Homo sapiens: one gene and its partners. The protein of the gene in region 3 purifies or fractionates together with the protein of the main gene of each other region. This does not show direct contact. Each region holds a gene or a part of one and is shown on either strand. Other genes may lie near its edges.

What was found.
Region 1: the proteins of ADPGK (region 3) and TIMP3 purify together in Homo sapiens (affinity purification with mass spectrometry; 2 studies listed by BioGRID and IntAct, with this or other methods). This does not show direct contact.
Region 2: the proteins of ADPGK (region 3) and UGT8 purify together in Homo sapiens (affinity purification with mass spectrometry; 2 studies listed by BioGRID and IntAct, with this or other methods). This does not show direct contact.
Region 4: the proteins of ADPGK (region 3) and PRXL2A purify together in Homo sapiens (affinity purification with mass spectrometry; 2 studies listed by BioGRID and IntAct, with this or other methods). This does not show direct contact.

Annotation. Positions count from the first base shown.
Region 1 is NC_000022.11:32,797,445-32,804,750, reverse strand, and holds the start of TIMP3 (metalloproteinase inhibitor 3 precursor), read right to left. Parts: upstream 3,047-7,306; 5' UTR 2,750-3,046; coding exon 2,629-2,749; intron 1-2,628.
Region 2 is NC_000004.12:114,601,659-114,608,807, reverse strand, and holds part of UGT8 (2-hydroxyacylsphingosine 1-beta-galactosyltransferase precursor), read right to left. Parts: intron 1-7,149. UniProt on the Homo sapiens protein: Catalyzes the transfer of galactose to ceramide, a key enzymatic step in the biosynthesis of galactocerebrosides, which are abundant sphingolipids of the myelin membrane of the central nervous system and peripheral nervous system.
Region 3 is NC_000015.10:72,780,717-72,788,425, forward strand, and holds the start of ADPGK (ADP-dependent glucokinase isoform 4 precursor), read right to left. Parts: upstream 3,043-7,709; 5' UTR 2,976-3,042; coding exon 2,743-2,975; exon of another isoform or gene 2,119-2,742; intron 1-2,118. UniProt on the Homo sapiens protein: Catalyzes the phosphorylation of D-glucose to D-glucose 6-phosphate using ADP as the phosphate donor. GDP and CDP can replace ADP, but with reduced efficiency.
Region 4 is NC_000010.11:80,404,285-80,411,683, forward strand, and holds the start of PRXL2A (peroxiredoxin-like 2A isoform 1 precursor), read left to right. Parts: upstream 1-4,266; 5' UTR 4,267-4,359; exon of another isoform or gene 4,360-4,748; coding exon of another isoform or gene 4,749-4,784; intron 4,785-6,709; exon of another isoform or gene 6,710-6,787; intron 6,788-7,399. UniProt on the Homo sapiens protein: Involved in redox regulation of the cell. Acts as an antioxidant. Inhibits TNFSF11-induced NFKB1 and JUN activation and osteoclast differentiation. May affect bone resorption and help to maintain bone mass.

The DNA of each region.
Region 1 (7,306 bases), on a different chromosome or scaffold from region 3:
CCATAGGGTGCAGGGCCTGGAGTTGCCATAGAAACACCTTTTAACTCCTCCTCCCCCAGAATGCCATGCCAGGCCCTAGGACTTTGGGGAAAAAAGACAAAAAGAGACACCTGTGGATGAGCAGAGACAGGAGGAAAGGCCATCGGGCAGCCCCCCGGAGAGGACCAGGCCAGGCCTCCTGTGCCTTTTGCTAGGCCAACATGGCACCAAGCCATGAAGAGAAAACCACCATGATGGTTTTAAAACAGGAAGTTGATGGGCTGATGTGAACACCTTTAGGGGGCTACAAAGTTGACTGGTGGGGTTGTGTGGGTCCCAAGGAATGGGGAGCTCCTTCATATTTGTTTGAGGGCGAGAATAGACAGTTTCAACCCAGACTGGAAACCAGAAAGGCTCTGAGCAATGAAACTTGGGAGCCAAGTACTGGACGCCAGCAGGGTGCTGTGCAAGGCGAGGGAGGTCGGCAGGCAAGCAGCTCACACCCACACCTCCCATTTTAAAAGCATTAGCTCATCCCTGCCACTAGTGCAGCTCACCAAACCCAGGCAGAACAATTTGGGATCCGTGCCAGAGCATCGAAGATTTTTTGTTTCTTTTTTTCTTTTTGATTCCACAATCTCCTGGTCTTTGGCTACTTCCTGGTAACTTAGATTTTCTCTGAGAAATTTATGAAGAGGAGCGAGGGAGCTATTTCTTGTTTCAATCCAGAGAAATTGTAAGAAACTTTCTGCATTGCTCAGACCCACCGCAGGAAACCTAAGCAGTAAGCAGACGGGAAGGCCCCCATTGGAAGCAGGATCTACTCATGCTTGTTTTCACTTTTCCGTGGTCAATTTTTAGGGTAGAAACCCCAAAGCAAAGGGCAAGGGGGAAGAATGGGGACCTACTCCCACTACATACCAAAAAAACGCAAGTGAAGTCACCCAGCCCATTTTCCAGCAGAAAAGGACTTGGGCTGCACCCCTGCACACCCTGATTCCACCTGCCAGCCTCCTGGCCGCACGTGTGTGATCCTGCTGGGCAAAACCAGAACTCAGCTGCAGCAGCAACTCCCCACACTAATCAGGTGGGAATGTTACCAACTGGGATGAGGAGGGAAAGGGTAAGTGGAATGTGGGTGGAGGTGGAGGAGGGAGGAAAACCCTCCCCAGTCTTCAGGCTGCCCAAAAGGATCTTTCTAAGCAATCCACAAATCCTGGGCCAGCTGGGTTCCCCCAGGAGAGGGGAGGATGTACCATGCAGGCCCCAGGGAGCCTCTTACAAGGGTGACCTCAGGTCACACAAACACCCTCAGCTGCCAACTGCACTGACATTCTGGTCACCACACCCCCACTCTGACCTCTAGGCTCAGCCCAGCCCACCAGCAGTGCCCCTCCCGGCCCTCACTGCCTCCCCTGCCAAGCTCCTACCTCCTCCCCCTCCTCACCACAACACGCTGGTAGAGTCCCTCACCCAAGACTCAGTGGAAAATTTCCTTCTCCTTTATGACTGTACTTAAAACACACACGCTCCATTCTTCACCTCTGAATCGACACAGGCAGAGGGCGGCAAGGCTGTCCCACCCCACCGCCCAGCCCAGCCCAGTGCACACACACACACTCTCCCAGCAGAGCCACTGGACTTGCACGCTTTATGGGCTGGAAAGGAGGAGAGAGATGTTTCCCAGATGCCACTCCACCTTTAGCCATCCAAACACAAGTGTCCCAAACACTCCCAGACAAGCCTCCCAGGATGCTCTCGGGGCCCTCCATACACACTAAGGAGTAGGAGGTCTCTTTACAGGGTCTCTCTACTCAAGACACTAAGTCCAGTCTGGAACTGTCACCGTGATGTGACCCTTGGCAGGTTTGTTCTTTTGGTGACAAATCTGTTTTCCACTACCCATTCTCCCCCTCCCCACACACATTCAAGGGGGAAAAAAATAGCCTTCCTGTGAATTTTCACAGCTATGTGGTGAGTGACCCCTCGCACCTTCTGCTGGCTATCAACACTCTCAAACACAGTGCCTCCAGGGCGTGGGTCAATGCCACAGCTTTCTCCTCATTTTCCCCCTTAAATCCACCCAAACTTGGCAGTCCCAGAAGCTCGGTTAGCGCTTGCCTGGGAAGCCTGCAGCTGGGTTGGGTCTCAGTGAAAAGAATGAATTTCATAGGCGCAGGAGATGATGCAGACTCGGAGTACTCCAAGTTTCTCCTGCAACTTTCCGTGCACATGGCGGGCAACTTTTTTTTTTTTTTTTAACTATTCAATTTCCCAGCACTTTAGTTAGCATTCCAAGTTTTGGGAACCCTTTCCCCACCCTTCTCTTCTAGCCCTTCCTCCGTTAGTAGTGAATGGGGACATTTTCCAGATGTCAAAAGGACCGGTAGGAACCTCACGACCTAAGTTAGGAAAGCAAAGGCGGCCAGGGGCTCCCTCAGCCACTGTGAGTTTCCTCTGCAGGGCATCTTCCCCTCTCAGCTATGCCAGCGCCCCCGCCCAAGGACATCGAGTTTCTCCACTCCGCCCCAACCCCGTCTGCCCCTCTCCTGGGGCAGAGGAAAGGAGTGGGGCTCGCCCTGCCTCCCTAAGCAGCGCTGCAGTCCTGGCTGCAGCGTGGGGCTCGGGCGGGGCACCAGGAGCGCTTACCGATGTCGGAGTTGCAGAAGGCGTCCTGGGGGTGGCTGGGCGAGCATGTGCACGCCTCGGCGCCCCAGTCCCCCAGGCTCCAGCTGCCCAGGAGCACGATGAGCCCGAGCCAAGGGGTCATTGCCGCTGCTGCCGCCGCTGCCGGGGCTGCTGCTCGCCTCTCCAAAGTTGCCGTGCGCGCCGCCGGCGGGGCTGCTGCAGCCCGAGCTCGCTCGCCCGCCGGGCCGTGCGGGGCAACCTTGGCCTCCGGCGCGCTGCCCTCCGAGTGCCCGGCGGGACGGGATGGGGCGCAGCGAGGCTGCCTCGGCGCTGGCGCAGGACTCGGCGGGCGGCCTCCCGGCGAAGGAGCAGGAGCTGGAGGAGCAAGAGGAGGAGGAGAAGCCGTCTGAGCGCCCGCCGCCTGCCTGCTGCCCGCTCTGCGCCGCTGCCTGGGCGGCCGAGTGATATAGCGCTGGGCCCCCGGGGACCCCGCCTCGGGCTGTTGGGGCCCGCCCCCTCAGACCAATGGCAGAGCCGCATTACCTCATCGGCCCTCCAAAAAGGGGGCGGGGCCGGGGGCAAGGGGTAACGGGGCGGGGCCGCCCCCGGATCGTTCAGATCCTTATAGGGAATAATGCCGCCGTGGGCACGCGAGTGGGTGGGCTGGGGCGCGCCCGGGACCGGTGCTTGCCGCTGGGTCCTCGGAGCGGAGCCCTCGTGCCCCTTCTCGTCTGCGCCCTGGCCCCACGCCCACCTGGGCCACTGGGTGTCTCTGACCCAAACCAGAACCAACTAACACCCACCCACCCCAGCAGGACCGCTTCCACAGGTGAGGGGTGGCCATGTCCTAGAGACCTTGACTGTGCTTGGTGGAACCAGCGGGGGAATGCTAACTGCTACCCCTCCAGTTTCTCTGGAGAGAGCAGGCACAGAGGAGAAAGACCCAAACTCTCTCTCTTTCTCTCTCTCTCTGGTTCTTACTCTCTGGGATATGGGAAGCCATCTGCTGTTTGCAGCTGGCTATGATATATGATAGAAGACTGTTTTCTGTGCTCTCCCAGAGCAAACGGGGTTCTGTATTCATTCAACAAACACGGTTCAGGATGCTGGGTTAAGCAACACAAAGCCCTTGCCCCCGTGGACATCCATGAATGCACAGGGTGATTTTCTGTGATGCTAGGGCTATGAAGAAAACAAAACAGAGTTCTGGGTTGGACATGACTGGGGAGGGCCTGCTCTCTCTGCGATAGTAAGGGAAGGGCTCCCTGAAGTGCCATCCTCGCTGAGAAGTGGACAAAGACAAGGATCAGCTCTGGGGCAAGCCACAGGAGAGAGGTACCAGGCAGGGGGAACAGCAAGTGCAAAGACCCTGGGCATGTTTGAAAGACAGAAAGTAGAAAGGCAAGAGGAAGTGGTTCCCTGCCCATGGCTGACAGAGCTCCACCCTTCAGCAAGGGATTTGGGGGTGAGCTGATCCAAAACTGTAGTAAAACCAGGAGAACGATCCAGGATCCTAGACGACTAGCTATAATAGATGATTGCAGATAACTAACACAATTACTATCCTTATTATTGACATCTTGATTCTGCTTTGTATTTTTAAAAGCAGGATTCTGTATCTCACCGTATTATAGCTCTCACAATAATCTTTGTGGGTAGGAAAAGCAAGCACAAGTATCACTCCCACTTTCCAGATGAGGAACCGGCACAGAAAGATGGGATGATTGGTGGCCAGCCAGGAACTCGTCACCCCTTTCCACTGCTCCTTCCCATCTGAAGAGAGACATGCATTTCCCTGAACGTCAGCAGCTGTTCCATCTAACTGCAAATGGCCATTTGCAGCTGGGATCTTCCATCTTTCTACACTTTTGTCTCTTTCCCTTTCTCTTCCGCTTCATCCTGTTAGAAATGCCACAAGTTTGGAACAAATAGAAACAGGGAGAAATGCAAGTTCAGCTTCTTTCTCAGAACTCCTCTGTTTACATCTCAGACAAGTGACATTGGGACAGCAGAGGCCGAAGAATTCGTGAGAGATGGTATTTCCAAGAACATTTTTGAAACTCCTTTTTCCCCTTTGAGCACTTTAGCCATAGGAAAGGGAAACCAGTTTCCACATCTTTTTGACTTGTCCCCTCCACCCAGCTTTAAAAACCTTCCCTGCCTTCACTCTAACTGTGGCCTAACTCGTAGAGATGTTTCTGTCTCTCGATGTTTTTCTAGCACTGTTTTCATTGTTTTATGGGGTATGATTCTATTGCTTCCCCAACCACAGTAGGAATACTTTGAGGCCTGGGATATTTAGCCACACTGCTTTTTAGCCCTCTCAGAACCAAATAGGGTCTCAGGAGACTGGAGAGCATGGGTGTGGCCAACAGCTGACTGAGTCCTGAGCAGAGTGCCCTGGAGGCCACTCTAAGGATCCAGGTTGAATGAGGGCATACGTGGTGGAATTTGAGAGATTCGCTTATCCCCGCGCCCCACATGACTTATTCCACAGTCATGTGGAAGGTTTTAGAAGACTTTCCAGACCAAATCCACTTTGGATAAGCATCTTACATGATAGAGGCCCTCTCTTCCCTTTCTTTTCACATTTCAGTTTTGTCCAAAGTGCCGATATTTTCTCCAACGGAAGGCCTTGCCTGGAATATAAGTATCAAGTAGATAACTTCTGCTGAACTTCAAGCAGCAGTTTTCTCATAGAAAGCATCTGAAGCGTTTTTTTCCAGCAGCTACTTAATTATGAAAGCACAAGTATAATCTGATCTTTTTTCCAGCTGAAAAGTAACGAAATTACCTTTTGGTTAATTTCTTCTCACTCCCTATCCTAAGCTGGTCCACACAGTGTCTTGAAGTTCAGCGAATTCCAAGAGCTTTTCAGTTGGGATGTTCTCTCTTATTCCAAACCTGAGTCAGTTCCCCTCTGCCCACCGTGTGAAGGCAGTTTGGTTCTCACCCTAAGGAAAAGAAACAGCAAACTCCATGAATCCTTGCGTAGGGGAGTCCTCCTGCTAGGGTCACCCCCTTCAGCAGGCACCCATCAGTCTGGATGTCATGGTGTCCATGAGCCTAATAATATGTAAGAATTGGTTATTCAACATCACTTAATAAGCTAGGTGGGGTGAACCTGAGGCTAACAGTAAGAATGAAGATGCAGGCTGGGTGCGGTGGCTCACGCCTGTAATCCCAGCACTTTGAGAGGCCAAGGTGGGCGGATCACGAGGTCAGGAGATCGAGACCATCCTGGCTAACATGGTGAAACCCCGTCTGTACTAACAACACAAAAAATTAGCCAGGTGTGGTGGTGGGCGCCTGTAGTCCCAGTTACTTGGGAGGCTGAGGCAGGAGAATGGCGTGAACCTGGGAGGCGGAGCTTGCAGTGAGCTGAGATCATGCCACTGCACTCTAGCCTAGGTGATGGAGTGAGACTCCGTCTCCAAAAAAAAAAAAAAAAAAAAAAAGAATGAAGATGCAGGCTCTCCTGCTTTCTCTTGACAGCTAAGAACAATGATAGAGTTATACATCTGGGAAGAACTGAGTAAGTTTCAAGATCTATCTGGCCTGTCTACACACCTACTAGGATGACCTGGTATTCTCTTTCCTGGAACTTTTCTAGGAAAGGTGAGTTCATATCCACCCTCTTTGTATCAAGTTATAGGATGCTAGAGTCTGTAGGAAGAGAAGTCGTAAAAAGGACCTCAGAAACTACTCATCCTTGTTTTAAATGTGGGAAAAATAAGGTTCAGAGAAGTGAAGGAACTTGCCCATTTTCAGGGCTCAGTCCTCCAAGCTGTAAGGTGTGGCCCATGCTTGTACTGTGGGCTTGGAAACCCCAGCCATTCACAGATCTCGTATCTGCTTTTCAGATCTGTAGACAGATTCGTTTGAGTCTTTGTACAGTGCCCAGCCCACAGAGAAATTTTACTTACACTGATTAAATAATTCTCTACCATGATAATAATCACCCTCTGAGCCAATCAGAAGCAATACAGGTTTGTCCTCCTGACAGGTTTATCTCTTGTGTGTTTATTTTTTTCCCTTCCTAAATTACTAGCTAATGCATTCCAAACATATCACTATAAAAAAAAGCACATGAAAACTTTGTTTCTGGGAAATGAAAAGAGAGTAAAGTGGAAACAAAAAATCAAAAGACCTGAGATTTGTTCCCAATGTTGCAGAATAGCTGTGCACCTGCCTTGGTCAAGTCACTTTGCCTGTCCAGGCGTCCACTTCTGTGTTTATTGGATGAAAGATAGAACTCAGTGGTATCCAGGATCCCTCTCGCCTCAAAAACTCCAAGATTCCATGGGGAATCCTGTAGGACAAGTGAATGCTTCTGAAGGGGAGATGGGTCCTGCCATTTAAACAGGTTTGACACATGGGAACGTACCCAAGACTGAAGACCATCCATCAGTTTCGCAACGAACACTGAGTTCCTATATTGCTACCTCCCCCAAGAATCAATGCCGAAAACAGAATTTCAGAGAAGATTGTGATGCCAAAGTCCTAGGAGAGACAGGCTCTGGCTTATGGTGGAGCCCAGTGTAGTTATGCGTTCACCTGCTTGTTTGTCTCTTGGATCGTAGCACTAAAAAGTTAGGAAGGTGTCTTTTTTATCACCATTTTTTTGGTCTTCAGGAGTTACTGAACTCTTCCACATCCTTCAGACCTCAGCTTAGATGTCACCTCCTCCGGGAAACCT
Region 2 (7,149 bases), on a different chromosome or scaffold from region 3:
TGTAAATACAAAATAAAAACTAAATACAGTTAATTATCACCGTGATTATTTTCTTTTATTAGCATTACCTAGAATTAGTTGTGAATGCACATCCACCTATAGAAGCCCCAGGTAAATTTAAAAAAGAAAACCCACTAAACCATTATAATTTTATAGTAGAGTTCCATGTAACTATTATATAATCTTTCTATATATCAAACTTTTTTTTCCATTGTGACTAAATAATGTAGCAATCCCTATAAGATATGTTGTTCCTATATAGAACACCTTGTTAAAAAAAAATAGGGGAATGTTTCAAGTTTGAATGATGCAGTTCTGGAAAAAACAACAGGAAAAAATCAAAATACGTATAGAAAATTAGGAAACTTACCCTTATTGCCTCATGACAAACTAAAGATACCATTCAATCATGTTTGAATATCTTCTCTCTGATCAATAGTGTTTGTCCAAGGTGTATGAGGAGACAAGAGACTCCACCCTCTAAGAGTTCATACTCTCCTTAGAGGGAGAATGAAACCTAATTGCTAACATCAATATATGTACAAATCAAAGTCACAGAAAAGTGACAGAGACTGGGAAGCCACAGTCTGAGGTGGGACTTGAGTGTCAAAACCTTGGGTGAGAATTTGGAAGTGCAGAAGAAAAAAAAGGCAGGACATCTCAAGCGGGGGGATATCCTGAAATGAATGCCCCAGTGGGTAAACAGGATAGAATCCTATTGAGCAATATGAGAAAATAAATAAGTCTGATCAGAAAGCAGCTAGACAATAGACAGCCTCGAAAGCCATGCTAAAAATTTTGGATCCCCATGTGAAAATAAACGCATAGTCAAATCACACTCAAAGAAGGCAAGTGGGTCAGTAAGGACAAGTGACTGATGGTTGTGGGCAGTAGGAGGTGATGGAAGGCCCAGGTAATGGTGAAAATGAGTCATTTAGTACCACTGGTGAAGAAGTGATGTGGGACTACACCAAGACATCAGGAGGTGAATGGAAAGACTCAGGCAAGGGAAGAAGGTCTTCATGAAGGACATAGTGATCAATTAGGAATAGATTAGATATAAAGGGTAAAAAAGTGAATTCCACAACACCAAAATCTGTCTTCGAAGACTGAGGCAAATGGGGATGTCAGATCTGAGTTAGGAAGTTGAGCTGGGAACTCTAAGCTCTTGAGAGTATAGAAGAAATCACAATTAGAAATACAGCTTTTTGAATCATCTATATATAAATAAAAATCCAGTCTATGGGCATGAATAACTACACCAAAGGAGTGAGAATAGAGAAGAGGAGAGGTGCTGGGACAAAAGATGTTAATAAAAATGCCAGGAAGGAAGAAGAGGCACAACCAAAGATCAGATGGGGAGTTACCATTACAGATGAGAAAGGAGAAGGAACTCTCAAGGAGCAGGGAAGAAGCATGGAGCAAAGGAGGAGATTACTGAGGACTACAGAAAGACTACTTAAAGGTAATTTCAGTGGGATCAAGGTTCAGCATTCCCAGAACATGAGGCAGGTGGTGAGCTATAGTTCCAAAACTTGTTCTAGGCAAGAAGCTTTAGTTTTAACATCAAATTCCCCAGACTGGATTGTCATTTTGACTTCCAAAGGTTACTTGGGACTCTACCAAGTTATGAGCTGTAAAATGCTACTACCTATAGGGCTATGCTTCAGGGGCAGAATGAGAACTAAACAGTAGAAATATATGTGTAATAGATTTGCAAACTACAATAAAGCTGTATGACTCTAACACTTTACTAGGGGAAACCAAGTATTATCTCTAATATAAGATTAGTATCAGAGATGGTTAACTATAACATTTTCCCACCAATATTCCTAGTAAACTTCAGCCCTGCCCTGGCAAGACGCTCCCTATTTTGGACATTGAGGATCACAGGCATGTGGGGGTTTTTTGTTTGTTTTAATTAAATTCATTCTCAGATCAATACCATGGTTTCCTGCTATAACACACCCAGTTTACATAAAGCCCAGATATGACACTGAAACACTATTCTTTCCTTCTTGAGCTTATTTTGCCTCCATTGTTTTTCCCTTCCTTCTCCCCATCTTGTCCTTATCCCCTGCTTCTAAACTACTTCCCCTTCCAGTTTCTCTCTTACTTTATCTCCATTAAGATACATTCTCACAAATGTCTACAAAGTATTTTCAAAACCAACAGTCAGTGATTAGCATGAATATTACTTAAAACAGTTTTACTCTTGGCCTTTATCCATACATTTCACCGTTCTTCCCTCCTTTTGAATAGACAGGCAAACCTGTTTGACTAGTTTTCCCCTAAGAGCTACTCCCCAGATTGGCTTGGTGAGAACAACTCAATAGGGACAGCAGCACAAATGCAAAATCTATGTAAAACACAAAGGCCTTCTTCATAAAGAGAACCCAGAGGAAGGGCCTGCTGTGGAGCCCCTAGACTAACTGCCTAGTCTTAGGCCTAAGACTAACTGCCTAGTCTTAGAACAGCTCTCTCAAAGCAGGAAGACACCACCACTGAATCACTCATTCCGTTGCTAGTAAAAAATTTTTATTTAAGTAAAATTGAATTCTTCCTGTTGATGCCTCTCCTCTGAATAATGAATATTATGAGGATGAGGGAGAATCAGATTAAGACTTAAGTGTAGAAGTTTAAAAAATTCCAACAGATGAGACTATATTCAAGATGTGTTACAGAAGTGTGTCCAAGTTTTTTGTTGTTGTTGTTGTTGTGTGTGTATCTGCTTAATTAAACCCATTAAAAATTCTGAATTTGCAAAACAGGTATTAATAAAATCAGAATAGGATTTTTTCTATGGTAAATTGTATGTTGATATTGCTTTAAATTTCAAAGTCCCTGAGTATATTTAATATATAATGTGCTTTAATGTCACTAACCACAATTTTTTTCTGTAAACTATTTCTAACATACAGAAAAATATAAAGATTAACATAACAAACATCTGTATGCCCATCACTTAATATTTAAGAAGTGTTAAATGTTTGCCCTATTTTCTTATTCTATAAATATGACTCAACTTATAAAAGCTGAGTTTATATACAGCTTTTCAAGAACCTATTACAGAACATATAGCATATTTGCACACTTGATTCTACTTTGTAAATTCATGTGCACATTATTTAAACTTGATGTTTCACTTGGAAGAAAATTAGCCCCACAGTTTTTACTCATTAAAGCAAGTTATAGCTTAATGTAATAACTAAAAAGTCATGATTTGGTGTCTTGAAATATTTTGAGTATTAAATTTCTTCAAAACAATTAAAAAGTACAAAATGATTTCACAAATATTTTGTTATATAATATTCCCAAATCAAGCACATATTTACCAAATCAGATACGAATGTAAATTTCTTTAATGAACTGGATTCCTTGCAGATGCATTTCTGTTATTTATATCAAGTCAATGGAAATAAATTATATCTTCAAAATAAAATCAATATAGTGATTATTCCAAATTAACAATTCAGATAAATAGTACAATGCTACAAGGAAACAGTATCTCTGAAATGTTCCTACTATACATCTTTCCATCTAATCTAAATGTTTTAATATTTACATAAATGTCCATCCAGAGAATACGAACTGACCTACACTGTCCTAGATGCCCTGCCATTCATAAACCAAAGGTACCATTTTTATTTTGGCTATGCACTCCTAAACACTTACCTAAGTGTGGCATTCTGTATAAGTCAATTTCAACTTGGCATCTGTTATCTCTGTAAGGGAGTGCTGAGCATGACAATATATAGTCTAAAACTGACTTGGTGAATATACAACATGGAACTAGAAGAAATCCTAAACTGAAAATCACCTGCTTAGATTACTATGCTTTACAAATAACAGGGCCATAAATCGTGAAGGACTAAGCACAGTGGGAAAAAAAAAAGCACTGAAACACAACTGCAAAATAGAGAAGTGCTGAAAACGAAAAGTATGGCTAGCGATTTTCAGGTAAAGAATATGATTAAATATTAAAACTACAGATATAAAATTCATTTCATCTTAAAAATATGGAATATCTAATTTTGTTTTATTCAACAAACATGTATTGGGACAACAAATATTTATTATATGCCTTATAACCAATTAGTAAACAATATGTACTATGTGCAATTGTTGGTTGACTTCCAAACCACTGCATAGATGTAAACATTTTCTCAAATTATGCAGTAATTACAGAGTAAAAAACTTATACACATATTAAAATAGAAATCTAATTTAAAATGTTTATTAATCTCTAATATAAAGCATCACTTCATCCAAACAGAAAATCCTAGGAAAAAAGTAGGTATATTTAAATATTACCATAGTAGTCTTAATTGGGGGAAAAAAAAAAAAAAAGCAAACAAACCTCTACAAATCAGTCCTTCCCCTATTACACAGGCTAATAATTATTTTTCACATGTTGATTTTTAAGACCCTATGAGGTATAGAGGTGCCTTTGGAATCATCAAATATTAAATTACATTTTGTTAAATTTTGAAATCATCTGTATTGTTTTCTGAGTTTATTTTCAGCTAATACTAAAATGTATAATCAATGTCCTTATAGATTATCTAAGGAACTAGAACACACTTAAAATACTAAGAGTACTTTAAACAAGACATTAGAAACCTGGAGGTTTAATTACCAGGTGCTTTTTAAACACAATGCATATGCCACCAGACCCTCCTGACTGGCGGAAGCATGGATTGTCCTGAGAAACCCAACATCTCTGCAACGCTCTTGAGGCAACTTCCACTCTCTCTTCAAGGACTTTTGTTCAGTTGGCTCCCTCTGCTCCCTTCAAAACTTTCAATGGCTGCTATTCTACTGGCCTCTAACCAAAAAAGTTAAAAGTATGATCAAATTTTCATCTTAAAAATATATTTTCAATCACTCTCTGTGAATTCTGAGAGCGAGTACTTGTGAAAGCAAAAATGACTACGGACCTTCTAATCACAAATCCAAGTCCTGGTTTCCATAAAACAGGTAGCATTTGTTAAACACAAAGGAGTAACCTCCCAGGCATTGTGCTTGATAGATTTTATCTCATCTGATCCTCACAGTAGCCCTATAAAGTAGGTGCTTCTCCCCTCATTTGCTAAATGAGGAAATGAAACTAAATTGTGAGCTCAAGGTCACAGAGCTATTCGGGGCTCGAGAGGGGGTGGGAACCGAGACTGTCTAACACCCCCTCATTTCAGTACCTGACCTTCTCACTTTCTGAAATTTTCTCAGTTTTCAGCTGCTTTTAAAAGTTACACCCTCCTAACTCTCCTCTTGCCTCTCTTGTTCTGTACCTTCTCGTTTTTCTTTATTGCTTCCTATTTCTCTACCCAACTCTTAAATTTTAGGATCTCCCCAGGCCTCTGTTTCCCTATTAACTTTTGGTACTTGCCCTGGAAAACCTATCAACTTTCACGGTTTATAATTACCTATACACTGAAAACTCCTAAATGTTTCTGTGTGTCTATCCATTTATCTACCTACCATTTATCTACCTGCCTATCTAGCCCAGGACCTCTGTGCTCAGAACTCACATACAATGATTCACTGGACACACATCTCCAGTTCGATTTTCTATAAGCACTTCAAGTTCTACATGTCTAAAACTGAACTCTATCACTCTTGCTCTCAAATCTGGATCTCCTTTTAAGTTCCCATCCCATCCTCCTATACCACCCACTCCCAATCCTCCAACCAAATTGGTCACCTAATCTTAGAGGTTCTACCACCTGAATATCGTTGTAACCAAACCCCTTTTTTTCATCCCACTGCCAACACTTTGGTACAAGGACCTCAACCTCTCTTACCAAAGCCACCCCAATATCTTCTAAACTACCATCCAAATCTCACATTCCTCAGATCCATCCTTCTAGATTGCTTGCTGTAAGAGCTGTTTTCTCATCACATAGCTCCTCTGTTTAAAACAACCTTAAACTGAAAATAGTCCATACTCCTGAGAATGGCAAACAGCCCTCCATGATCTTGCTCCTGCCTCCAGTGATTCATCTTTTATGTCACCCTCTAAGAAACCCTCAAATCTCCTGTCCCCACACAGAATTGACCACTTCCAAATTTCTGCTCAGGGTACTGTGTGTGTATCTCTATCACGGCACTTACAGAACAGCCAGCACTATACTGTAGATATTGAAAATAGCCTGTTTCCTCCTTGTCTCCCCCTTTTAAACCTAGAGCCCTCCCAGGGCCTTAATTGTATGCACATCCCCAGAGCACAGTGCTTGGCACACAGTATGCTTTTAACAAATATTTGTTGAATAAAAGAATGAATGTTTGTGAAATGCTTCAGATTAAGGAGATATGATTACCACTGTTTTCAAGATCAAATTAAACCATTTTAATCATATGTATTTGATTATGTACCTCCTCCATAAGTAGATTTGCAAAATAATATTTAAATAATTCATGTAGCCTCAAGTATGGTTAGCAGGATTCTCAAATCATACTTCTTATTCTGGACTTCCGGGGTAGAAAAATATTAACTACACTACATTATAGTTAGTAAGTTTCAATGGCAGAAAGTAATATGTAAAATATTCTAGTATACATATTCCTAAACAAAGACGATCTGGGCCTATCATAAGAAAGTAAACTTTTTTTTAAAGGCTGCTTCAGTTTCTCAGAAACACCAAGATATTCCAGAAGACTGAATTGTCTGAAATTAATACACCCTCCTAAAGATCTCATACACAAATTTTTTCTATAAAAGGTACATTAAAACCTTTTATATAGAGGTCACCCTTCTGGAAACCTAAACATTTCAGTTCACAGTCCAAACCACAAATAAAGCACGTAAACTGAAAGTGTCTGTCACAAAGTCTACAGGATTTACACTCGGGCAATAGCCCACATCATTTGATGGAAAAAAAGACAACAGATAATAGAGCAGCAGGGCCCACTCACAGTCTGACAGCAGCAGAAAGTGATAGCCAATAACAGAAAGAGGACCCAGAAAAAAAAAAAAAACATAAAAAGAAGAATGGTACTTCTGTCTCTATTCTAGTATTTCAACCCAGCAGGCTGAGACCATTTACTATAAACAAAAACAGCTCTATACACCTCAGCGAATAGCACTATTCAATTCTTTATGAATTCATAAAGACAACCCAACAAGAAAGAATAACTTATATCCAATAT
Region 3 (7,709 bases):
ACAGTGAGCTTGAACATGCCACTGCACACGCCAGCCTGGGTGACAGAGTGAGATGCTGTCTCAAACAGAAAACAAAAACTAAACAAGATATCCAATATTAAAAACCTGTCGTTTTTGACTGCCTTTCTTTACTCCACCACATCCAAACTATTATTCAGGTTATCTCTCAAATCTCACCTCTTCTACATCATTGCCGAGTTTGGTTCGGGCTCCTTTCTCCCTTTACACAAACCCTACAATGGCCTCTTAAACCAGTGTCAGGATGTCAAGATATTCCTCCTTATGAATCACATTAAATGGCATTTTGAGTGTGTCTGTGTGACAGAGAGTGTGAATACGAGTGTGTCTCTAGAGAAGTCAAACTACAACCTCAAAATGAGATTCTGATACAAGTACTACACCTGCTCCCCCTCATCCCTCCTATATCCCCCTATCTTTGGGCTAAAAATCCTCTTTGGGTAATAAATGATGAGAAGCAGTGAAACAGTTTAGAACCACTGCTCAAAATCCACCCTTCACATTCCCACCAATTCTCAACAAAGAACTTGTCATCAGTTAACTACTTACAAACCTTTATGGCTTCCCCATAAAAGGCCCTTCACAATCTGGTCCAACCCTTCGTTCTCAGCATCATCTCTTTACAACCCTCTACCATAGGATTCTCGCTCCAAAACAAGGCCGACCTGTTCCCAAACAAACCATGTACTTTTTCACATTTGGTTCTCTTGCCTAGGTGGACCTGTTCCCACTTTGGCTTGAAGAAATCTCATTTATTTAGTGTCTGTCCTATGAAAGTCACTGTAGTAAAATATATTTTCCAAGATGGTGGCAATAAGATGCCCCATTCCAAATGTTCTTTTCACAATGTGACACTGATGCTCCTCCCATCAAGGTTTGTTCTATGTCCCCTCCCTTAAAACCAGGTGGACCTGTGACTCTGGTAGAAGAGTTCCTATGTGCTTCTAAGGTAAGGTCGTAAAAGGCATTAAGGCTTCTGCCTGGTCCTCGTGGGTTGTTCCTCTTCTAACCATAATTGTTATGGATTGAATTGTCCACCCCCCACCAATTCATATGCTGAAACCCTAATTCCCAATGTGACTATATTTGGACGTAGGGCCTTTAAGGAAGTAGTTAAGGTTAAATAAGGTCATACGGGTGAGCCCTATTCCAAAAGGACCTAGTGTCCACATAAGAAGAATAAGAGGCACCAGGAGTGTACATGCGCAGACTAACTGAAAAGCCAGCTGGCTGCAAGCTAGGAAGAGAGGCCACATCGGAAGCCAATCCTGCCAACACCTTGATCTTGGACTATCAGCCTCCAGATCCACGAGAAAACAGATTTGTTGTTTAATCCACCTAATTTGTGGTATTCTGTTCTAGCAGCCCAAATGACTGATACAATAATATGTTTCCAACAAGTGAGACAGGGGCCTTGCTTCACCCATCTCTGTATCTTAAGAACCTAGCACAGACCTGACACTAACCATGTAGTTGGTGAATATCTGCTGAATGAACGCGCATAAAGCAAGGAAGGACAATTTAATCCCAGCACTTTGGGAGGCCAAGATGGGAGGCTGGCTTGAGCTCAGGAGTTCGAGACCAGCCTGGGCAATATAGCAAGACCTCGACTCTACTAAAAAAAATAAAATAAATAAAAAATTGGCTGGGCGTGGTGGTGCTTGCCTGTCGTCCCAGCTACTCCAGAGGCTGAGGCAGAAGGATCTCTTGAGCTCGGGAGTTCGAGGCTGCAGTGAGCAGTGATTGCACCACTGCACTCCAGCCTAGGCGACAGAGAGAGAGACCCTGTGTCCAAAAAAAAAAAAAAAAAAAAACCCCAAAATTATAGCTAATATCGAATGCTTTTTAAAGCAGGCACTATGCTAGAGAGATTACATGAATGATGTCATTTAATCTTCAGGCCAAGTTTGCTCTACTTTACCCCTCCCGGCCCCAACACTCCACAGAAAGTAGTGAGCTACATGGTAGAGGGCCTGCTTTTATGTGGTGGTTATACATAACTCTGAGATTACGGCAAGAAAGTCAAATCGAACTGAGACAGGGACTAAAGTTAGTGTTTACAGTATCAATACTATAAAGAAAATAATTACATTCCCAAGGAAAAGTACAAAGAAAGGAGGTAGTGTCATTTGGAAGAACCTTAAATATGCAGTGTCACTGAAGTCAGGGGAAGAAAAGAATTTCACGGAGAAGGGCGTGTTCAATGCGTGGAAGGCTGCAGAGTAGATAATGAAGATTCAAAAAGGCAAATCTGAGAGGAGTTGCAGTACAGTCGTGTGGTTTCTAGACTACACGGCGTTTCGAAAGTGGGTAAAGGCAGACATCACGCGTCTTCAAGAAGTTCAGAAGAAAGAGGAAGAGTGTTGTCATAGTGGGTAAGGTCAAGTATCTTTGATTGCAAAACAACAGTCGCCAGAAGAGAAGGGGCTAAAAGTTGGAACGAGGAAGAAGGCTCGGAGAAAGGTGTCAGACAAAGCGGGATTAGCAAGAAGCTGTTAGGGCTGGTCCTACCGGGATGAGAGAAAGGCGCAGAGGCCAGCCGAGTGGAAAGAGCAGCGGTGACGAACCGGGTTCCACTCAGACGTCCGACACTTCTCGCCAAGGGGCCAGCGCGGACAGCAGCGCCTCCCGGGGACCTCTGAGAAGCCCTGTTTCTGCGCGGCTCCGCCCGACCTCCAAGGCCGACCTCGGAGGCTCAGAGACCCAGGCCCCGTTGGCACTCACCCCACTGCCACGCGGCGCCAGCGCCGGACTGGCCGCACGATAAGCGCGTCCCAGGCTGCCGCCAACCGGCCCTCGGGGGAGACGGGTCCCGGGGGCGCAGGCGCGGGCCCCAGACACAGCGAGCTCCAGAGAGAGCGCAGCGCCGAGCCTGGCAGCTCTGGCTCCAGCAGGAAGACGCAGCCCACGGCCAGCGCCAGGAAGCCCGCGTACGCGGAGCCGCGCCACAGCGCCATGGGGACCCAGGCGCCGCACCTGCGCGAACCAACTCCTTTCCTAGCCCGCGCCTCTTCCGGGCTCGGCGCGCGCCGATGTCGACACAAGCGCTACGTCACAAGGGTGCGCCACGGGGCCCCCCAAGGGGCGGGGCGACGGGCGGCGCCAGGACGGAGCGAGGGGGGACCCCACGCCTCAGTCCCAGGCCTGGCACTGCGGTGTTGCCGCCCCGGAGGAGGTGGGACAACGGCGGTTGTGCCAGTCCGGGCGCTGCACCCCCTTCCCGGAACTCTAATCGTATCCCCAAATAGAGGGATGGGAACACATTTGCTTTCGCAGTAAAACGAAACGGACAGATTGTGAAGAAGCGGACAAACCTCGCGTTAATATTCGAACCAGTGGGTGTCCCCATTGGCACGGATCACACCCCCATCTTTTAATCCCTCCCTCCGCCCGTGTCCCCTCATTTGCTAGACTTGTCCTCTTCCAGGCCTAGTGCTCGGCGCTTCTGAGAGGAATAGGCTCACAGAATAGCGGCGCTGCCGAGACCCCTGGGGTACGCGAGGCAGGGGGATTCCGCCCCTTTGGAAGGTGGCCGAGACCCTCAGCCACTAAAGGACTTCGTCGAGACAGGAGAGCCCGCAGAGATCGTTCTCTTCTGGATAACCAGATTATTCCACAATCAAACTTTAACCCTTTTGGGGGCGCTGTTCCCTTTAACAAACTCTGGAAAATGTACACAATCTTGTGCACAACACGAGAGTTATGGACCTGGGTTGAGAAACGCTGCTTTCTTTTGTTCCCCCTTGGTGACATCACTTAAACCCAGCCCTCTCTTCGCTGATACTTTTCTGTGCATGAGGCTAGGTTGAGAGACAGTGAAGCTAGGCTGGGTACCAGCTCATTCTCATCAGCCACAATGCCCGGCCTAGTCTTGTTCCCTGGTTTGTTTCCACTTTTCCAATTCTCTCGGCTCCTGACCTTGGCTTTGTGTCCAGTTTTCCACTGTGACCCTGACCTTTGGACTTGGCAGCGAAACTTTATTTCCCTAACTTTGATCTTGGGCATTAGTCTTCATTCTCCTCAGCCCCACCTCATCAGAACTTCCCCATCCTGGTCATCTACCTTCCCGCAGTTCATCCTACCCAGCCTACCTGACCATGCCATCCCTTTCGACAAAGATATTCACACAGGAACAGATTTGGGCTACCTTGGAAAAGAAGCCAAAGAGCCAGTCAGATCTTTATGAAGCCATGAAAGCCATCTTCCCTAGAGTTGCCTGTCACTTCTCTCTCCTTAGGGAGACATGTCAGTCAGTTCCTAGAGAAACTGCTTCTTCTCACAACCCTCAGCTGTCAGGTTTCCCTGGCACCCAGAGGGGACTGAGCCAGCAGCTGACCTGAAAACAGCGAGTCTGCTGACTGTCCAGCGATCATTTCCCTCTATTGAGAATTTTAACCAAGTTTCTGTTGTCTGTAGTTATTTGATATTGGCTGTGGACCCACAAAGTCACACAAGGCTAAAGGTCAGAACCAGTTAAATATGTTTCCAAGGTGAAGTTTTGGGGAGCACAGGAAGCTGAACTGTGGGAAGGTGATAGAACAGACAGATCTAGAGGACTAGGAGAGTGCTCCACATTAAAGTGATGTGGACAGAAACCTGCCTGGGGCTTTCTTGCTCCCACGAGAGGCTGCTAAACTTCCAGCACTTTGCACCTAATTCTTCTGCTTCTTTCTAGATTTGCCAGAATTGTTGATTTAGTCACAGAGACAAAACAACAGCAGTTGAACAAAGTGGATGTTTATTTCTCATGTAAAAGTCTAAATGGGGTGTTGGCATGTTGTGGGCTGTGGTAGCAAGCTTGGCCCCCTCTGGTTGCTATGGGACCTGCTGTGGGCCTCTTGCTGGTTAGTCACTCAGTGTGGGTTTGCATTGTGGGTGGTGAAGGGGGCCAGACAAGGAAACGAGAGAGCTGACCTCAATTCCAACTGAGAACTGAAGAGTCAGGAGCCGCAGGAGGTGAAGAACAGAACACCAGGGACAGTTGCCAGGCCTGGCGGAGCCTGATGTGGCTTCTGGTCACATACAGAGTCACAGGGCCCTTAATTCCTTCTCATCGGGGCTCAGGGGCAGGCATTCACTGTCTTGGTGCCACAGTCCCTCTTGAAATATTTCCTTAACGAAAATCAGAAAAGATTCTGATCATCTATCTGTTCAGAGAGTCTGGAATCCTTTGCAAGCCAATTGTTTTTCTAGAAGTTAGGTTTCTGGGGACAATTAAAACAGCTCTGAGTGGGCAGCTGTGGCTCCTTTGCCTAGGCTGAACAAAGAGGAAAGGGCTGGGCTGGGCAGGCCTCAAGACACCCCCCGCCCCCACCCAAATTGCTTCCAGACATGGCCTTTCCTATTGGTTCTCTCTCCTAGGACCTTGAAATGAGAGAAGAAAAGCAATTTGGTTCTAGAAAATTCAGAGGCAAATGGAGGCTCCAGGTGCCCCACCCAAGATCCTGACCTGGAAGGCCAGGGAGCAGATCCTGTATGAACACAAAGAATTAGCAGAATCCTGTCAGCTTCCAAATTAGCTGAAGGTTTTGGCTTTAACATAAATACCCATCAGCGTCACCCCCGCAATCTGAAAGGCCTTAAGGGGCACATTTGTTCCCACGTGGAGCAGAAACTAAAGTGGGACCAAATGGTCCCTGTGAAAGCTGGGCTAACCCACTTTCCTTGCAGCTCCAGGCCTCTGGGGTTTCATCCAAGCTGCTCTTTGAAGGCCACACTGTGTCAAAGCCTTTGTTGATGCCAGGGACACAGCCCACCACAGGCCATGCCCAAAGGCCAGAGTCAGAGCACAATTTTGAAGATTACAGAAAACTCCAAAGAGATTGAAGAGATGGAATAAAGGATCCCAGCCCCCGAAAAGAGAAAGCTTTGTGTCTGTAGCCATAGCCCTTGGCAATCAGACATCCTCCTCACTAATGTGAGGTCAGGAGGGGACTAGAAGTGCTCAGAGGATGGACTGCCTCTGGCCAGTGCAGGGGAGAGGCAGGGGTGTTGAGGCACAGGAGCCAGATGAGAGGAACGTCAGCAGCAAAGCAGTAAGAAGAACATGAGAGTTTCTTGATAGTAATAGAACTTCCTACACAGACTGGGAACCGGGTTGTAGCTTGAGGGGATGTGACAACATAGTGGCCCGGAATTTTCACTTTGGAAATTAACTGCTTTGGACCAGGAAGAAGCGCTGAGCCTAGAAAGGCAGGAGGCACAGGACTGTGTGGGCTTCTGTCTGGCAGGGACCTATGAGCTTCATAGGGCGAATGAATCGGGGCAGGATAAAGCAGAGGCCTCCACCCTCACAGTGCTCTTAGCCATCTCAGGCTTCCCGGAACACTGCTACCAGGCTGCCTGCTGGAGCCCTTTACACTCACAGGCCTTCCTGCTTGGGTTCTCTTCTGCAGGCTGCGTAAACCAGTCCTGTTGTAGCCCTTGTAGCATCTGCTGTAGTGATCTGGTTTGGGTTTCAGTATTACTTGCAATGGTTTGGAAGGAAATGGGAAGTTTGCCTTCTAACTACATTTTCTTTTTGATTCAAGAACCCTAGCAGTTCTACAACCACTGGGCCTAAAACTAAAATAAAGGAAAAATAAATAAAAGGAAGCAAAAACATCTAACTGGGATGGCCTGGCAGCATTGCCAGAGAGAGTCCTCAGGGGCCCATGCTTGTTCTGTCTTTTGCTCTGCCATCCCTAGGGTGGACAGCACGGAAGAGGCAGTACATCTTAACAAAATCAGGGTTCTGGATGAAGGGAGGGGTGGTGAATGGTTGCTGCAATCAACAGTTCATACTTCAATGGAAAGAAGGTGGGATTTGATTCCTGGCTGCAAATCTTCACTCTGTCACCTGCTATCTGTGTGCCCTCAGGTAAGTCATTTAACTTTTCTGTTCTTCAGTTTCCTTATATGCAAAATAATTCCTACTTTGCAGAATGGTTGTGGGAGGTAGAGTTATCTTAAGACAGTCTAGCACAGTGTCTGCTACATGCTGGAATTCAAAACATTCCCTGCTGTTGCTATGGTTGGTTCTGAGAGCTATATTTAATTTTCTTTTTAGTCTTTCTTGCTGGTCTGTCACTCTCTTACTATAAGGAAGACAGCCATTTCTGCATAGGTCACTATGCAGTAGCCTTTTCTATTTTTTGACGGCTTAGCATCTATGTAATATCCCACTGAATGAAAATACTAAAATTTATCTATTGTACTATGAATAGACGATTTGGAGTTTTCCCAGTTTTTTTACTATTACATACAGTGTTGCTATGTATATGCTGTGGTACACGTGTATAGCCATTTCTTCAGGGTAGAAACAAAGTAACATTTCTGGGTCATATGATATGCCTGTCTTCAACTTTACTATATAATATCTGACATCTTTCCAAAGTGGTATGCCAGTTTATCTTCCCACTGGCAGCATATGAGAATTTCTGTTGCTCCAGCTACACTCCAACAGATTCTTAAAGCTTTGTCATTTTGTAGGGTGTGTAGTGGTATCTTACTGTGGTTTTGACAAGTTTCCATTTGTTGGTTATTTGCAAGTATCTTGCCTCCCTCCCAGTCACTTGTCTATTCATTCTTTTTATAATATCTTTAGTGAGTAGAGTTCTATGAAAAATTATTCTTATTTATGTATTTTTGTAGAGATAGGGTCTCTCTGTGTTGCCCAGGATGGTTTTGAATTCCTGACCTCGAGAGATCCT
Region 4 (7,399 bases), on a different chromosome or scaffold from region 3:
CACCGCTTTGGCCTCCCAAAGTGCTGGGATTACAGGGGTGAGCCACCACGCCCGGCCTCTATTTTTTTAAACAGTAAAATCTTCTAAAATATTACTCCAAGATTTGACACTGAAATGAAAAAGTTTTTGCAAATGCAGAAATTCATAAAATCAGAGCAGTGGAACATAAATTTGATATTAGTAAAGCAACTTTTGTTATCAGAAGAATTACTTCATTTTCCTATATTCTTGCAGAGCAACAATTGAGACACTTATGGAACCTAAGAAAGCTATACATACACACACAAATGAAGTCTATTATGTTTTGCTATTGAGAAACACACAAAAGAATTGTAAGGCACTGGAAAAGTTGCCAAATCTCTTGAAATGGATAAAAGGAATTCCAAAGCAATGAAAGGTTGGTGTCATCAATTCATTTGTTTTGAAGGACTATCATTAAGATGTCAAACATCTTTTTGTCAAAAACTTCTGCTGATGTTGAGCAGAAGGCTATATGGAGCACCCTTTAAGAAATGCTGTGTTACCAATGTTTCTAATGGTCAGAGGATAATATTGTGTGACAAATCCAGAAATCAGCAACTCTAAGTCTAAAAATAGTAAAAAAACAAAAAAACAAAAAAAAAACAAAAAACGAAAGAGTTGGGCTTTGAATGTGAAGATATCTAAGGAATGCCTTATCCTGTTCATTTCACTTATATTTTTTCTTTTTAAGTGTGCACACAGGGATAGATGAGTTGGGAATGAACCTAGACTTAGAGTGCAGTAGTACCCTGGCCACAATGACTGGCCAATCAGTATGAGGATCTGGGTTTTGTTCACTCCTTAGTCTAACTGCCCCTTCCCCATGTTGGATCCTAGGAATCATCCTATGACCATAGGGAGAACCATCCTTAATATGAAGCCAACACATGGATAATGGCAGAGAAGCAAGAGAACCTCGACTGTTGATGACATCATGAAACCACAGGATCACCTCAAGGCAACTGGAATTGGGTTTTCTGTTAACTTGCAAATCAAAGCTTCCTAACTGAATAAAGACTCAGTTAATGTTAGTTGGTAGTGCATGCAATGATGGTTGAGGACACTTGAGACAATCCTGCTTTCTCAACCTGGGGGCAGAATAATACCACCATCTAGCCCTCAGTCAGCCATCGGTTCACCTGGTAAACCATTGGCCACATTTATGGAAGGTTTTAGAAAGAGGTCCCTATTGACTTTGCTTTGCTTTGAGACACACTGTGGAAGTATAGGATTTTTTATGCTTAAAACAAATAAGAAAGAGCTGAATTCAGGGATATTGGCATATAGAGAAAATATTTGAAGCTGATCTATGCACATCTATTTTTGAGATTCACATACAAGTCTTGTTCTTGATTTCGCTTTTACCCATCCACAGAATGGTAACCTGGGCCTGACATATTGAAGTGAAGTATCAGTTTTTGCTCTATTTTCATCTTGATGCTAGCTGCTTCCTGACTGTTCCCAGCGAGCCCAGACACCACAGGGCCATAAGCTTAAAAAGATCATGTTACTTCAGTCACTGCTGAGTAGCAGACGAAGCTGAAGCCAGCTGAATCTAGAAGTGCTATGACGCTGAAAAAGTCAGGAGTCTTTACCCAGATCTGCCTCCTGCAAGCAGTGTTTTCTGCCTGCCCTATGGGACTTGTGAGGGACAGAAAAGTTTCCCAGCCCCTGTCAAGATGGTAACATTATCTAAAGTTATCACAAAGCTTCTAGTCAACCTTAATTTCTACCACCTGAAATTCAGAACCTAAGGCTATTTTACAATCTTTACAAAATTTAAATTATTTTTCTCTTAAAAGCTGGGCAGGTTGGTGGGTTTTCTTGGTTTATTCTTCAGGTTTTTTGTTTTGGTTTGGTTTTTGGTTTTAGTCCTTGAGCTTTGTAAATAAGTTTTCCTGCGCCTGCTTGCCTGTAACTTATTTTTCTGGTCTAATGACTGTTTTTTAATGAGTTCAGCCTGTGCTTTCTTGTACAAAAAGAAACGTGGGCATGTGAGGAGCATATTAATTAGCTATCAGATGTAGCCTGGTTTTTGAAGTCCAGATCTTCAGGATGTTACCGAAGTGTAAATATAAGCATGACTTTTGCACGTGATTAGTAATTACATCACAGTTAAAGCCTCAGGGGACCTTCCACCCCAGAATTCTGCTATCCTCAACCCCTGAATGGCTCTGTCATTAATGGTCAGTCTCCAAGAACTCATTTCCCAAGGAAATGACTTCCTGTTTTGTTCTAAGTGGCCTTCCCTGCAAACCCTCCTCACCTTTGAACTTCCTATTTTGGGATGGAAAGATTGACCCTTCTCCCGCTCCTCTTCACAAGGTAAGGAGAAACAAGGGAGAAGAAAGAAAGGTCCTCTGGAGAGAGATATATGTATCATACATATCTTATACATATATCATATATATCTTATATATCTCATATATATCTTATATATATCTTATATATCATATATATATATATATATATATATATATATATAAAACTACACCCGCATTGCACCAAAGTATACGAAATATTTTCTGGCCTTCAAATCATATGCCTAACTCCTGCAGGAAAACTGCATGGGCACTCAGGCTGATCTCCCTTACCCCACAACTTAGATCCACCTCTCACGTTTTCTAAGTTTATTTCCACGCTGTCCCTGGGCCAGGCTCTAGGGTCCCAGAGGTGAAGTGGAGGAATTCACAGTTTGGTTGAGGAGAGACCCCCTTGAATAGATCAAGCTCCCCAAGTGTTGCTGTAAGTTTACATGGAACATGGAGTCTGAGTGGGAAGTCAGGGAGGTGAATCACGGAAGCCTTTGGACTTTGTACACCTGTGGGCAGCTCCCAGATGAAGGGGGGAAGGTGTTGCAGGCAAATGACCACCTTTGACGGGCGGACATCGGCCTGCTTTGCCACTTCACCTTATGCTGCCCTGTGACTGGTCTTTGCACTGTGTCACCGATATGTCTTTTTTTTTTTTTTTTGAGACGGAATCTCACTCTGTCACCCAGGCTGGAGTGTAGTGGCACCATCTCGGCTCACTGCAACCTCCACCTCCGGGGTTCAAGCTATTCTCCTGCCTCAGCCTCTTGAGTAGCTGGGACTACGGGTGCGCGCCACCACACCCGGCTAATTTTTGTATTTTTAGTAGAGACGAGGTTTTGCCATGTTGGTCAGGCTGGTCTCGAACTCCTGCCCTCAAGTGATCTGCCCGCCTTGGCTTCCCAAAGTGTTGGGATTACAGGCATGAGACACCGAGCCCGGCCAACCACTAATATGTATCGTGAGTCAGCTCTGCTGTCTCTGAAAGTCCAACCTCCTACTTTTTGTTTTTTGTTGTTAAGACAGGGTCTTTTTTTTGTTTTTTAAAGACAGGCTGGAGTGCAGTGGCGCGATCTGGGCTCACTGCAACCTCCGCCTCCCGGGTTCAAGCGATCCTCCCACCTCAGCTCCAGAGTAGCTGGAAATACAGGCACGCGCCACTATGCCTGGCTAGTTTTTGTTTTTTACGTAGAGATGGAGTCTTACTATGGTGCCCAGACTGGTCTTGAACTCCTGGGCTCAAGCGATCCTCCCAAAGCCCTGAGATTACAGGCGTGAGCCAGCGCGCCGGACACAACCTCCTACTTTCATGAAAGAGTGGGCACTTCCAACAGGAGGAGTAAGTGGATGAGCGGTGTGTGACACACCCGCCTCAGCGTCGCCCGGAGTCCGCAAGGCTGCGGCTCACCGTTCTCTGCCCCATAGCTGGCATTGTGGAGTGAAAGGGAACGTGGGTGGAGGATTGAGGTTGGAAATTCTGAATCTGTACATACAGCTTGAAGGGGCTCATCGAATGTGTCGGTCCTTTAGATTCCCCCTGCCCATGGAGGTTAAAAAAAAAAAAAAAACCTATCAAAAGAGCTATTCAAAACCAGGCTGAAGATTGGAAGGAAGTTGGCCAGCCTCGGCTGCAGGACAGGTGCTTCCAGGCTCCATTAGGGGTGTCCAGCGCCTTCTTTTGCCCTAGGCAGCGCCCTGAAGAACGCGTCGGGGCCTCGGTTCGCGGACTTGAGGAGTGGACCGACCGAGCGCTGTGCGTAAAAGGACCGCTGGGGCACACGCCCGAGCGCCACCGGAGCTAGGAGACCGCGGCCCGGAGGTCGGCGAGTCGGGGGCAGGCCCGGAGCTCCTCCCACGGGGGGCGGGGCGGGTCACATGGCGGTGGCGCGGTAGCGCGCGATGCAGCACAGGCTAGAGGCTGCGCAAGCGCGGGGCCCGCCCCTGGGACCCTCCGGGCCGGGCGGTTTGGCCCCTTAGCGCCCGGGCGTCGGGGCGGTAAAAGGCCGGCAGAAGGGAGGCACTTGAGGTAGGTGCTGCGCGCCGGGGCTCCGCGAGGCACGTGATGTCCGTAGGCGGGGCCTGCCGCGGCGTAGGTGGGGAAACTGAGGCAGTGCAGGGCCGGTAGGGTGGGTGCTGGGCTGGTGAGGCGCGCCCCTCGGGCCCGCGCCAACTTTCTTAGGAGCCGCCGCAGCGCTGGCGCTCCCTCCGAGGACGACGACCCTTCCGCCACCCTGCGTGGCGGCCGATGGAAAAACCCTGCGCCCAGACGTCGGAGAACGGAGACGGGGACCCGGCGCTGCTGCGGCGGGCTAGGGCCCCCTCTGTCCACGCCCGCAAGCCTTGAGTGACGCCGGTGGCGCCAACCTTCGCGAATTGTTGGGACAAAGAACAGAGGAGAGGGCCCTGCCCTGGAGCATGGGCCCGGGGGCCGCCCTGCTGGACCAGCCCCAGGTGCGGACCTGGCAGTCCTCGTCCTCGTCTCTGTGCCCGCTTAGGGTCGTGTCTTTTAAGAGGGCACGGTTTCTAGCGTTGTTCAGCGTTTCGGAGGCACCTGTTCCCCCTCTTTCCCAAGAGTCACAAACGCCTGACTTTAAATTGGGTAGAGCCCAGTTGTAAACTTAACAGCCCTGCTGAGGTCTAGGAATGAAAAGATGAACAATCTGCCCCCAGGGTTGTTGCTGGAGCGGGAGGTGAAGGCGCAGGTGGAGATGGTTAGAGGCAAAGGAAGGGAAGTCAAGGCCCAGCCGGTCCAGGGCTGTGGGAAGGAGGCACACCCGGGAGTCCACTGCCGGACCGGGGTTCCCAGCTGCTCCTGCGCCTCTTTTCCTTGCCACATCATGCTGTCTGCACAGCCCAGCAACCCAGAACTCAGCTTTTTTGTTTGTTTTATTTTAATGTATTTTCCTTTGAACCTGGCAGGTGGTTTTTCAAAAAGAAAATAATCAAGATTTGTTTTGAAAAGCATTGTGAAAAAGTCAGCTTGAATAGTCTTGAATGCTCCTGCTCGGGCCCAGCTTTGGAGAATGAGGATTGGGATTTCCACTGCAGACCCCGACTCGTTACCATACTCATTCATCAGAAAACTCTTCATTTTGTGTACAAATAACGTTTTGAGGGTAATCATTGCTCTAGAAATGAAGAATTATACATCGTATTTATTGCACTTTTTGTAAGGTACCTCACAAGGCACCTCCTATACATTTAATCCTTTGATTCTTGCAACTCTGTAGAAGGTAATTAAGGAAGCATTCCCATTTTACTGATGCAAAACAGTTCCTTGTCCAGGTTTATACAGCTTGCAAGAATTAAAGTTAGATATTATTCTTGGTGTGGGCCTTTCCTATATCCCCGTCTTTTATAAGAGCATGTCATTTAGTTGAGACCTTCTGCATTACTTCTGAAGGGGTACAAAAGACATTTCTGATGATTTTCTCATCTCGTGTCATTTAAATGGTGCTCAGAAAGTTTGGATAGGACTGGAACTCTAGGGCTCAAGCCCCAGGCTCTGTCCCTATCTAAGCAATAGGGCAGCTGTCCTGCCAGTTGGGTTCTTGCTTCTTTGTGAAATGTTGAGCAGAAGCTCCAAGTCTCTCTGCTGTGGCTTGTGTGGCAAGAACCATCCTGAGGTTCTGTGCAGAGAGCCAGCCTCACCTTTGAGCTCAGTGGCCTCTGGCACAGGGAAATTACAGCTGGGCAGTGTCCTTTGCCTTCTCTGGCACTGCTAGTGCAGGAGGCAGTGTTAGCTGCTACAGGAATAGCATGGAGCGGGCCTGCAGGCCAGAGGGGCTGAGACAAGCCAGTGTTCCCACCAGACCTAGAACGTTCACCAGAAAGCAGGCCTGCAGTGACACAGCTGCAGAAGTTCACTATTTTGTGCCTGTCCTGCTTCAGATATCCTGTCTTTATAGGGGCACGAGTGAATCTGAGCCCTGCAAAAGAGAGAAAGATAATGCTGCTTTGCCGTTTTCTAGTGCGTTACCGCATTAAAAATTGCTCTTCTTATATAATCTTTATGACAACTCTTTAAAGTGCCCTTGTTTTTAAGAAGACACTGAGGTTCAGAGGGATAAAATAACTCTCAGAGTCAAAGAGAGAAAACCCAGGATTATTGGCTTTTAGCCCAGTGTCTTCTGTGGTATTGCCTTGCCTTCCTATCCACACCCATATAACTTGATGAAGCCGGAGTTCTGAGCCCAGACAGGAGGCTGTGCAAGTGAGATTAGAATGGCTTGCTCTTTGAGGGGTGGGGGGCCCTACAGCTTGAGGAAACAAGAGGACATAATCAGCTACTGGGAAACCCTGAGATACGCCCAAGAGTGAGGAATGTGGGGGCTGGTGCTGCTTTCAGCATCTATTCAGAGGTTTCTGAATCTGGCATTTGAGAGTAGGACTGGGCCAGAACCAGGCAGATACACACCCCAAGGAGCAGGGCTGAGAGTTGGAGACTGAGGCAGGTAGGTGAGAGCTCATTGCAAGTGACTGATTTTGTGGTATATGAAGACAAGGGTGGGTGGAAGGGCATCTGTTGCTCATAAGGCTCTGTGTGCCTGCATCATCAGTATGCTAGACAAGGATGGACAGAGTCTTGTTATTGTGGGGAAGAGAGGTGCAGAATGGCTTCTCAGCGGAGACTAGGCAATGAGACCCTTAAGACATTTGGCTTCAGATTATAAGCTGCTTACCAAGGATTGGGCTTGGGAGAGGCTGATGATGTTCTCTCCAGGCAGCAGATTTCCCAGGCCCTGTTTACGGGCAGTCTTGCTCTTAGCTTGCCTGAGGCCAGTGAACAGGCTTCAAGACCTGCAGGGCCCCACTTCCTGAGCCCAGACTGCCATGCTATTCCAGCCTTAGAGGCCACTGGCCCTTGGCTGGCTGCCCAGGACCTAGCGTGTCTGATGCAGGATAAACAGTCATGGACTGGAAGTTGGGAGACCCAAACCTGAGTCCCAGTGCAGCCACTGACAACCTGCCCTGCCCATGTGACCTTGGACTAGCCAGCTCCTTCTCTGAGCTTTAGTTTCTTCATTTGCTCAGTAAAATGAGCTGAACCAGCGCTTTGAGGGAAG